Regions from separate parts of the Homo sapiens genome. Here region 2 is linked to region 1. Evidence: fine-mapped expression QTL. A gene starts in region 1. The other region holds a variant in brackets. All regions are shown on one strand. Distances are between the middles of the regions. Region 1 holds the start of ATP6V0E2-AS1 (ATP6V0E2 antisense RNA 1). Region 2 has its middle 110 kb from the start of ATP6V0E2.

Region 1 (5,375 bases):
GATTTCCTAGGGCCTTCAAGTGTCCTGGGGCTCCTGTTCATTTGCACTGGGGGACACTCAGGGAAGTTTTAAAGAGCCTCTTTCAGTGGCTCCTTCTCCTTCTACCCTTTCTAGGAATTCATCAGCCCCATGAAAAGATGAACGATAGAGATGTCACCAACATCAGGACCCCACTCCCTGGGAGATGTCATGGAAACTTGTCAATCACACCCAAAGCACTCACTGAGGAGCCATGGCAGAGCAGTCGGTGGCGCCAATACCAACCAGAAGCCGCCAGGGCAGAGGGGAACCGTGAAGCCAGTGGAATGCACAGCTCCACCTCAGGGGACCGGGGTAGGCGGGGCTGTGTCTGGTAACATGCCCTTTGCCTCACATTAGTGCCTCTGAAAATAGTGTCCTCAGCCTGGGCACAAACCCTAGGGGTGAGCTGGGAGTGTGGAGGAGACGCTGGATTAGGGAGAAGTCTCGGCCATGTGTTCTGGCTCTTTTACTGATGAGCTGTGTGGGCCTAGGCAAGTTACTTCACTTCTCTGGGCCTCAGTTTTATCACCTGTAAAGTGATAGGATTGCCTTAGCCTCTAAGATCCCTTTCAGCTAAAAACAAAGTTCTAGAAAATAAATATGTGGTACTGTGGAACTCTGGGGAGCTGTTTGATCAGGTGAACAGTTTACCCATGGAAATGGGGCTCCAGCACAAAGCTGCTCACATCTTCCAGTCACGCTCCAGGGAACAGCCAGGGCTTGTGGGCCCAGATGAGGCTTTAGTGGTTGGAGAAGGAGCCAGTTCCTGGTTTTAATCCCTTCATGGACCTCAGACCATCACAAAGCTGCCAAACAAATGACACAGGCAATCACATGCAAATTAGGACAGAAATGAAACATCAAAGACATTAAAGGAAAAGAGTAAGAGCTGCAGGCTGCTAATATGAGTGGCTGCTCAGACTCAGCAATGTTTTTGGTTCTGGCCAAAGCCAAGACAAAGGAGCAGAGGCAAAGAAGGAAATACATTTCACTTTACAGCTGTCATTTTCTACAGAGGATTTTTTTTTTTCCAGAACAAAATTCAAAAAGTCCGTCTTTTTTGAGCTATAGAACTTTCGTGGTGATTTTTTTTTTTTTTTTTTTTTTGAGACGGAGTCTCACTCTGTCCCCCAGGCTGGAGTGCAGGGGCACAATCTCGGCTCACTGCAAGTGCAAGCTCTGCCTCCCGGGTTCACGCCATTCTCCTTTCAGCCTCCAAAGTAGCTAGGACTACAGGTGCCCGCCACCATGCCCAGCTAATTTTTTTATATTTTTAGTAGAGACGGGGTTTCACCGTGTTAGCCAGGATGGTCTCGATCTCCTGACCTCGTGATCCGCCCGCCTCTGCCTCCCATAGTGCTGGGATTACAGGTGTGAGCCACTGCGCTCAGCCCTCGTGGTGATTTTTTGAAGGCCTGTATGGACATACTCTTAACTCTATCTCCTGGATGCCAAGTGCACCCTTATCCTAGGCCAGTGTTCTCAACAATGTACACACTCTGGATGAGAAAAATAACCATTGTTTACAATCCAGCTAAAATCTCACCTCCTCCAGGGAGTCTTCCTGGATTTCTCCACCCTCTGAATTCTCATAATGGGCATTTGGCTACTTTGATCACAGGGCTCTTAGAACTGCGCTGTCCAGCATTATGATTTTACCAGAATATATCACTCCTCAACTACTTTAGAAACCCCTCGAAGGCTAGGATGGTATTTTATACCTAACAGTTTGGTGTCATCCCACGCCCACCTCCAACTTACATGAATGTTGGAAGGATGGATAGGGAGGTTTCAACTAGAGAACGGAGAAGGGCGGATGTAACTGGTTCTTGATTTCAGAAAACAGCCAGGAGCACACATGGCTGACGGGGTCAGTGCAAGGACAGGCACATTTCCCTTCTGCATCACGTGGGGACTGCGCCTCCCTATGTCATGAAGCCAGGGAATATGTGTGGCCGGCCGCTTGGGGTAGCACTTGTTGCTAGAGATACCGCCTGGAGGCCACTGATCTGTAAAAGGGATCTCTACAGAAGATAGGGATTTTTGATCGCCAGAGAAGAAGGGATATGTGAGATCCAAACGCCGAAGGAGGAAAGCAGGCTCCGTGGTCTCTTCCAGCCCTGATGGAAGAAACTACCGAGCCTTATTATACTAGGTGCTTTCCACATGCCTATTCATTTAATCCTCCAGCAACCTTGTAAGAAGGGCCATCCCATTTTATATTTAAACAAACCTTAACTACTGACGCAAGGAGTCAAGGATCTAATCCCAAAGCCTCTGCCTGGTTCGCTGCAGATGGATGTCCGCGAGGACGCCAGCCCTCCGCCTCCCGCCGGGTCCCTGAACGCCGGCCCGGCCGGTCCAACCTCATTCCGCTTCCCGCCATCGAAACGCGAAGCCCCCGCCTTCCCCCAAACGTCTCAGCGCCGCTGGGGCCTTTCTGGCTGCGCCGCCTCCGACCCCAGGCCCCGGTCCGCGCCCGCCGCTCGCTAGTCCTGGGAGTGAGGAGAACGCGTGCTGAGGACCCGGCCAGAGGGACAGCGGGGACCGCCCTCCCGCTGCGTCTCTGAAAGCGAGGCCGTTCCTCCCGCGTCCGACCCCCGCGGGGCCGTCAGGTTCGGGGCGGCCCAGGCTGCGGGTCCGCAGGGCGCTTCGGGCCGAGCCGGCGCGGCGCGTGAAGGGCAGGGGACGCCCCGAAAGACCGCTGGGGTGGGACCCCAAGCTCCAGGGGTCTTTGGAAATAAGAATGCGGCGTGACGTTGGCTGTGCGGGCGCGGGGCTGACGCGGACCCTATAACCCATCGCCGAAACCGGGCGGCCGCGCCCCTATTCCTCGGCATTTCTCTCTGTCCGCGGCCCTGCTCAGCCAATCAGCGAGTGGGCTCCTAGGCAGGTCCTGAGTGACAGCGCGGCGGGCTGGATCAGGAGATGCGCGTGCGCGGCCCGGCCCGGCTGATCGCTTCGGGTGCTCGACTCCTGTTGCGCATGCTCAGCGCGCTGCCCGGCTGGGGACCCGCGCACCTGCAGCGCCCGCTGCTCGGCCCTGCATCCTGCCTGGGCATCCTGCGCCCGGCCATGACGGCGCACTCATTCGCCCTCCCGGTCATCATCTTCACCACGTTCTGGGGCCTCGTCGGCATCGCCGGGCCCTGGTTCGTGCCGAAGGGACCCAACCGCGGGTAAGGAAAGCGCGCAGGCCCTGCAGACCTCTCCACCCCGGCCCCCTGGCCCGGCTCGCCCCTCCGCCCCGGGGCGGCGGCTTCCTGCTCTGCAGCGAGCGTCCGCAGGAGGGACGCCAGGACCCCGGACGCCACCTCTGAGGTCTCTCTGCACCTGGGTCTCTGACAGCCGGGAACAGGCAGGAGGTGGGGCGAGAGGGCATATCCAGAAGGTAAAGAGGAGAGTGACATTGGAGATGTCTGTCACCCCTCCTGCAGCCAGTAAAGGGCACAAGTGGGCACTGACGCAGTTTCTCCACTCCTTGCTAGCTGTGTGACCTAGAGCCAATATCAAGTCTCAGTTTCTTCATGGGTAAAATGGAGATAATGTCGACTCCTGCCTTAAAAGGCTGCTGTGAGGATGACCTGCGGTAACGCATTTAAAACACCTACCAGTGCGTGACACTTTGTAGGTATGGGATAAGTTTAGCTGGCGTTATTTTTCGAAGGTCCTCTAGCAGATTGCTGCGCCATTCACCAGTTTCTGCTTCATATTATCTTCAGTTACAAAGCACCCTTCCCTTGACTGCATGTTCCCAGGGGCTGGAGTTTGTCCAGTTCACCATTGTCTACTCAGTGCCCAGCCAGGACTGGCACAACCTGCTTAGTAATGTTGAAAAAGGGATCGCGTGCTCCTGTGTCCAGCACCAGCTTGCAGTGCTTTAGATCAAAGATCAAGGGCCTCGTTTGGATTAGAGTTAGCTTTGCCCAAAGGCCGTTTGGACATGTGAGTGCTGCCTTTGTTCTTAAAGACAGGCAGGGTTTGGGATCCCACAGCTTCACTTTGTAAACCATTTTCGTGTCTTGCGTCTCCTGCTATTCTTGGTGAGTTCTTGCTTCAGTTTGACTGAAATTTCTTTTGCTGCACTTGAAGCATCTGTCTCTGGTCTTCTCTGAGTACACGCAAAGTGGCTAGTCCCTGTTCTCTTTGTAACAACTCACTGGGCCTCAGAACTGGCTCACAGTCTGCCTGCTTCTTGCCCTGTCTTCTAGCCTATTGTTTTCCTTCCCCTTGCTCCATGAATTTTGAATTCTACAGACCACTCCCTGTTGGGTTGCCACAAATGCAGCTCTGTGCAGTGCCTTTCCACAACACGTCTGCATTAAGATGGAGCAATATTGGGTGGTAGAGAAGGGAAATGAAGGGAAGGATTCTTAAGGCAACTTGGATGTGGTCAAGGTTGGCCTCTCTGTGAGGTGACACTTTCAGTTTTTATTTTCTGCCTTGCTATTCTTACCCTGAGTAGAACTCAGCCTCCTGTGTCCAGGAGGCATCAGGAAGGCCAATGGAAAAGAGCTCACACCAGGAGCTCTTCTTGCTCTGGTCCTGGCCAGGCCTTGTGAGGTGCTGGCTGCATTTGTTCTGACCCGTGTCCTCTTCTGCTGCAGAGTGATCATCACCATGCTGGTCGCCACCGCCGTCTGCTGTTACCTCTTGTAAGTACTACTCTCCCCAGCTCAAAGTCAGCCAGTTCCTTTGTCCTCCCTCCTTTCCTCCTCACCCTAGCCTGCTCTTCCTTCTGTCCTGGTAGTAAATGCCTCTTGAAAGGCTGAACCTATAAAACAACAGGAGTGGAGGTGGTGTGGAATGGGAAAGAGAGCAGTGGGCCAGAAGTCATGAACCCTGGGCTCTGGATCTGGCTCTGCCCCCAGAGTTCTGGCCCCCATGGGCTGTAGTTTTCTCACCTGGGCAAGGAAGGAGGCAGGCCACCTCAGTGCTGTCTGTGCCTGACTGGGTCACCTGGAGTGATTGTTCAAACACAGTTTTCAGGCTGCACCCTACACCCATGAAATTACAACTCTCGAGATCTGCACTTGGGAATTCCTGTTGTTCATGAATGCCCCCAGGTGACTGGAATGCAGCCATCTTAGAACCACTAGGTGAGAGGCCAGACGTGGCGGCTCACGCCTGTAATCCCAGCACTTTGGGAGGCTGAGGTGGGTGGATCACGAGGTCAGGAGTTCGAGACCAGTCTGGCCAACATAGTGAAACTCCGTCTCTACTAAAAATACAAAAATTAGCCAGGCCTGGTGGCGCGTGCCTGTAGTCCCAGCTACTCAGGAGGCTGAGGCAGGAGAATCGCTTGAACCCGGGAGACGGAGGTTGCGGTGAGCCAAGATCTTACCACTGCACTC
Region 2 (5,375 bases), 110 kb after region 1:
CTTGACTTGGGTTTTCTCATTTGTTTCTCAAAACATTCTTATGAGACAGACACCATTATTATCCCCACATTACAGATGAGGATACCAAGGCACCACAGAGCTAAGTGGTCGAGCCGGGAGTGGGCACCACCCAATCCAGCTTGTGCTACTGAACACGTGCTCTCTGATCACTGGAATCCTGGCAGTTTGATGGGAGAGACCTACTTCAAAAAATGCACAGTGCCATCAATGATGGAGCTGACAATAATCACAAATAACAACAACTGAATGTGTCTGTCCTTTCAATCAAGCACAGCCCATGGTACTTGTCAAAGCCCTTCTTTCTGTACCCATTTGAAAGGATGCATTTTTAGGCTTGAGCTCGAAGTCCCCATTCAGAATGAACAGAACCTCCCTATGTCCCACAGACATAGCAGATACATTCAGGTCTTTCTCTTTGGTTTGTCCTGCCTCACATGCACCCTCCTCTCCATCCCCCATCCTTTCCTAACTATCCTTTATCCTAAAACTGCTCATTCTAAGCCTTCAGCCCACATTAACCTCTTGCTTTCTCTTGTATTTTCTCTTCTATCCAGACACTGATCCCCAGACCCTGGAAGGTTTTCTGACTTTGAATAAAATAACAACTTCTAGATCTTGTCCTGGGCCATGGTCTGTCTGCTCTGTGACCTCCAGATGATGGAGAACTCCCGACCCATTTCCTCTTGGTGGGATGAGGTTTGCAAACTTCCTAGGAAATCACTACACATCAGTTGGGGCTGGCTGTTCCTGTGGAAAACCCACTCAACATTGCCAAAGCCTCCATCCCCTTTCTCGCTCATCCCATAAAGAATGGAAGTTTGTGGTCTCCCTTCTGCTCTACTGTTTGTACCTTATGATAAGGGGTCTGATGTGTCTGTGTGTTTCTCTCTGATTTCTGTCCTTCTTGTCTATTTTAAAACTCTGGCTGTTATTGTGTATTCACCGCGAGGTAAGTACCAGATTCCAGGGGAAATCAAGATTCTTCCCTGACTACCCAAGCAGAGTGATGCTTCTTTTTGATTCAGTCATAGTGTTTTCTGTTTCGTGTAACACAACTCCTTAGTAAAGGGTAAGCACCATGTTTCCTACCTAGTACAAGACTGATCAGAGGGTAGGCACTAATAGCACAAACACAATTTTTAGTTGGATGGAATTGAACAAACTCATTGCATTGAATGTTTCTGCATTTAACATCATTTGGAGAACACCAGGATGCAAATCTGGCCCATTTTCTCGCACAAAACTCCCCACCCATTGGTAGCCTGAAAGCCACAGTTGACAAATGTTAGGAAGCACCAGCAAAAACCAGTTTCCACCCCTCTTACCTTGACTTGTGTGACTGCCCACACTTCTATCCAGAGCCAAATGAAAGCTTCCAGTCAATGAAAAAATCTAGCAACCAATATTTAGGTAAGGTACTAAGAGCTATTTTGCATTCTGTTGCTCCCCCACCCTGCACCCCAATTAGGGTTCCCTGCATGGGCCCCGCAGGTATCTGAGGCTACTGCCTTGAAGCCCCCGCCCCACCCACTAAAGACACTGAGTACTGGAGGGTCCCCTCTCCTTGTTCTACAATCATAACACGCCCACACAGGGGCCTGCTTCTTCAGGGGTTTAGTGCCCTCCACTGGGGGACAAAGGGTAATCAATGGACTATTATGCAACTCACAAAATTCTTACTGTCTTTCCCCTTCTCAGGGAGAATTATGTCCTACCAGAGGAAAAAAAAATGCACACATCATCAATAAAATCTTTGTGAGCAGCTTTTTAAAAAACTATTATTATTTTTAAAGATTAGAAAATTAACAGCGGCCAGGCGCTGTGGCTCACGCCTGTAATCCCAGCATTTTGGGAGGCTGAGGCGGGTGGATCACTTGAGGTCAGGAGTTCCAGACCAGCCTGGCCAACATGGTGAAACCCTATCTCTACTAAAAATACAAAAATTAGCTGGGCATGGTGGTGGGTGCCCCATAATCCCAGCTACTCAGGAGGCTGAGACAGGAAAATCACTTGAACCTGGGAGGCAGAGGTTGCAATGAACTGAGATTGTGCCACAGCAGTCCAGCCTGGGCGACAGAGCAAGACTGTCTCAAAAAAGAAAAAATAAAAAATAAAAAAAGAAAAGAAAAGTAACAGCATACTAGAGTATAATTTTCATATGCTCCTCATTAAAATTTTGAAAATTGTTAGTTTTCATATTTTCTCCATATCTATTTTAAAAATTATTTCAATTGCATACAGGTACCAAAACATCATGCCTCGAAATCATTCAGGATGCATCTTTTTAAAAAATCTCAGTGAGCAACGCTAAAGAAGAGAGACCACAAGTTCTAGACGTTTTCCTGTATAATTAAGAAGAATCTGTTCAACAAACCCCCATGACATAAGCTTATCTATATAACAAACCTGCACATGTGCCCCTGAACCTAAAATAAAAGCTTTTTTAAAAAAGAAAAAGAACATTTTCACACTTAAAAACTGAATACAATTTTCTAATCTCATGTAATAACTTCCCCAATTACTCTAAAATGACTGGTATAGCTGGTTTGTATAGGTAAGGATTTAGCCAAGGCCCAGGAATTGCCCTTGGTTGGTGGTAACGTATATTTCAACTTAGAACGTGTCTGCCCCAGTGGCTCCCCAGCCCACCGCACATTGCTGGCTTGCTGGAAGGAATGGGCGAGTTGTTGCCTCCACGTTTCCACCTTCTGGATTTGTCTGGCTGTTTCCTCCTGGTGTGCATTAGCTGGACGCTCTGCAGCCTGTATTAGTTACGCACTGAAAGTTAGACCTAAGAGCTTGATTAAGTTCAGCTCACACATTTCTGGCATTACCTCACAGGTGATGCTAAGCACCGCATGGGGCATGGAAGGATATCTGCTTGTCCCAGTGTTAGGGATGCAGGAATTGATAAGGCGGAGAGCATCGGTGTTCTCCAGGATAAAGTCACATTTCTCCCCTTGCAACCAGCAGATGATCCCTGGAGTGATACTTTAGCACCATGTAAATTCCCTGAGATGACTGTGTATCCATTCA[T/C]GACATTTGCCTACATCAATTGGTTTACTAAAGATTTCTGCATTTTACAAGCAAGGAAAGAAGGCTCAGAGATGACCGTTGGGCCACTTAGCAAATTGGTGGCTGAGAGGCTGGCCTGCCAGAGGTGGGATACTTGCTCACCTCTTGCCCAGTCCCTAACCCACAGAAGTCTCATGATGAGAGAACCCTCAGCACCCTGAGAGAGTTAATGCATCATCCTTTGGCCCCATGAATCTGCCCAGAAGCCAGCTGAGAAAAGAAGGTAGAGAACAGGGCTGAGGGACAAGGTGCCCCTTTATATATTTGGGTGAACACATTTTTAAATTTTCCTTTCATTGTCCAGTCCCCATGAATTATTTATTTGTTATTAAATTCAACTGAATGAGATTTCAAAGCAACGAAAATTGAAGTTCAAATGAAACCAAATTACCACTCTGAGCTCCAGGTGGCCCTGACAGCCCAGTTTTGTGAAGGGCCCCTGAGGCTGTTCACTGAGTCTGAGATGTCACCAGGCATGGAGGGTCTCTGATCAGCATCCAGAGCTCCAGAGTAGGGAGCAACCCCTCACCACCACTTCTGGGCCCCAGGCAAGGCAGAGACCAAAAGAACCCTGGTAAGGTTCCCCAACCTCCATGTTCATTTAAAAAAAATGTTTAAAACTGACAAATAATAATTGCATATATTCATGGGGTCCATCATGATGTTTTGATATACATATACACATATGGAATGCTTATATCAAGATAGTTAACATATATATCACCTCACAGACTTATGTTTGTGGGTGTGTGGTACAAATATTTAAAATCTACTCTCTTAGCAATTTTTGAAACATACTTTACATTATTAAATATAGTCACCATGTTGTGCAATTGATCTCAAAAACTTATGCCTCCTGTCCAATGAAATTTTATATCCTTGTACCAACATCTCCCCAACCCACCCCCAACCATCCCTGAGCTAGTCTCTGCCTCTGTAATTTTGACTTTTTAAGATTCTACACAAGTGACATAATGTGGTATTTGTCTTTCTGTGCCTGGTTTATTTCATTTAACACAATGTCCTCCAGGTTCATTCATGTTGTCACAATTGACAGACTCTCCTGCTTTTTTAAGGCTGCATAGTATTCCATTGTGTGCATACACCACACGTTTCTTATCCATTCATCTGTGGATGAGCACAGGGAATGTTTCCATATCCTGGCCATCCAGAACAGTGCTGCAGTGAGCATGGGAGTGCAGATGTCTCTTTGACAAGCTGATTTCAGTTCCTTTGGTTCTAAACCCAGAAGTGGGATTGCTGGATCATCCAGTAATTCTATTTTGGATTTTTTTTAAGGAACCTCCACACTATTTTCCATATGGCTGTAAAACTCACATTCCCTCTAACACTGTGTGAGGGTTCCCTTCTCTCCACATCCTCGCCAACACTTGTTATGGTCCACATTCACTTTTCAAGGTGAAATCCATTCTCTGCACTCCCCTGCTTGAAAGCACTCGGCGTCAGTGCGTTGCTCCTTCCCTCACTTCCGGAGGCCCCTGATCTGAACCTTCATCCATCCCTCCCCACACGGGTCTCAATTTTTCCTCCAGCCTTTCAGCCTCTTTTCTCTCCAGGGACTTTGCACCTGCTCTCACCTGTGCCTGGGTTGTCAGTGAGCTCCATTGCACCCTTCATTCCCAGCCCAGCTGCTGCCTTCTCAGGAGAGACACCTTCCCAGACCTCCTTCACCCACGTGCACCCCCACCCATCAGCCCCTTTCCCATTTCCTACAAAGTCAGGAGCATTCACATATCACCTGTTGCTCCTCTACCCACTGCCTCTTACCTCCACAAGAACACAGCAGCAGCATGAGTGGCCACTGAATCTCCAGCACGCAGCCCAGTGCAGGGACAGAGCAGTGGGTCCTGTGTTTGCTCAGCCTTTTCACCAGAATGTCAATCACATCTGCTCTGCTCACCCCACCACACTCCATGTCTACCATCACATTCTATAAACACGCACCAAGGATATAACGCCTGGCCTAGCGGTTGGAGATGCAGAGACCAGACCTAGCCTTTCTGTTCCTCCTCTTAAGAAACTGAGCCCCTCATGGAGAAGTGAGGCAGACACATGAACATAAGTTTTGCAACAGAAGCACTTTTCACCAGGTAATGCTATGGGAGCAAAGAAGGAAGTAACGGAGCCTGGGGGAACTCAAGATGTTTTCTGAATGAACTTTTATCTCTGAGTAAGAAACAAGGGCGCATAGGCAGAGTCTGCCACCCCTTTCTCTCCTCTCCATTGGGCCTGTGGAGATGGAGTGGGCAGGCACATAA

What was found. PIP is the estimated chance that this variant, and not a neighbour inherited with it, causes the effect.
Region 2: its variant is the best candidate, but not a certain one, in a credible set for the expression of ATP6V0E2-AS1 in nasal epithelium (TOPMed, PIP 0.53).

The regions. Positions count from the first base shown.
Region 1 is chr7:149,870,970-149,876,344 of GRCh38, forward strand. It overlaps ATP6V0E2-AS1 (ATP6V0E2 antisense RNA 1), which reads right to left and starts at 2,893. Exons shown (of 4, transcript NR_027040.1): 1 at 2,255-2,893; 2 at 673-827. It overlaps ATP6V0E2 (ATPase H+ transporting V0 subunit e2), which reads left to right and starts at 3,000. Exons shown (of 4, transcript NM_145230.4): 1 at 3,000-3,200; 2 at 4,629-4,676. The coding sequence starts at 3,097. RefSeq lists silencers at 2,527-2,736, 2,767-2,846, 3,257-3,436 and enhancers at 2,799-3,767, 3,097-3,236.
Region 2 is chr7:149,985,453-149,990,827 of GRCh38, forward strand. It overlaps a transcript of ACTR3C not described here. Among named protein-coding and RNA genes, the nearest start is that of ATP6V0E2, 110 kb to the left of the region's middle. The variant T/C (reference allele first, on the strand shown) is at 3,058.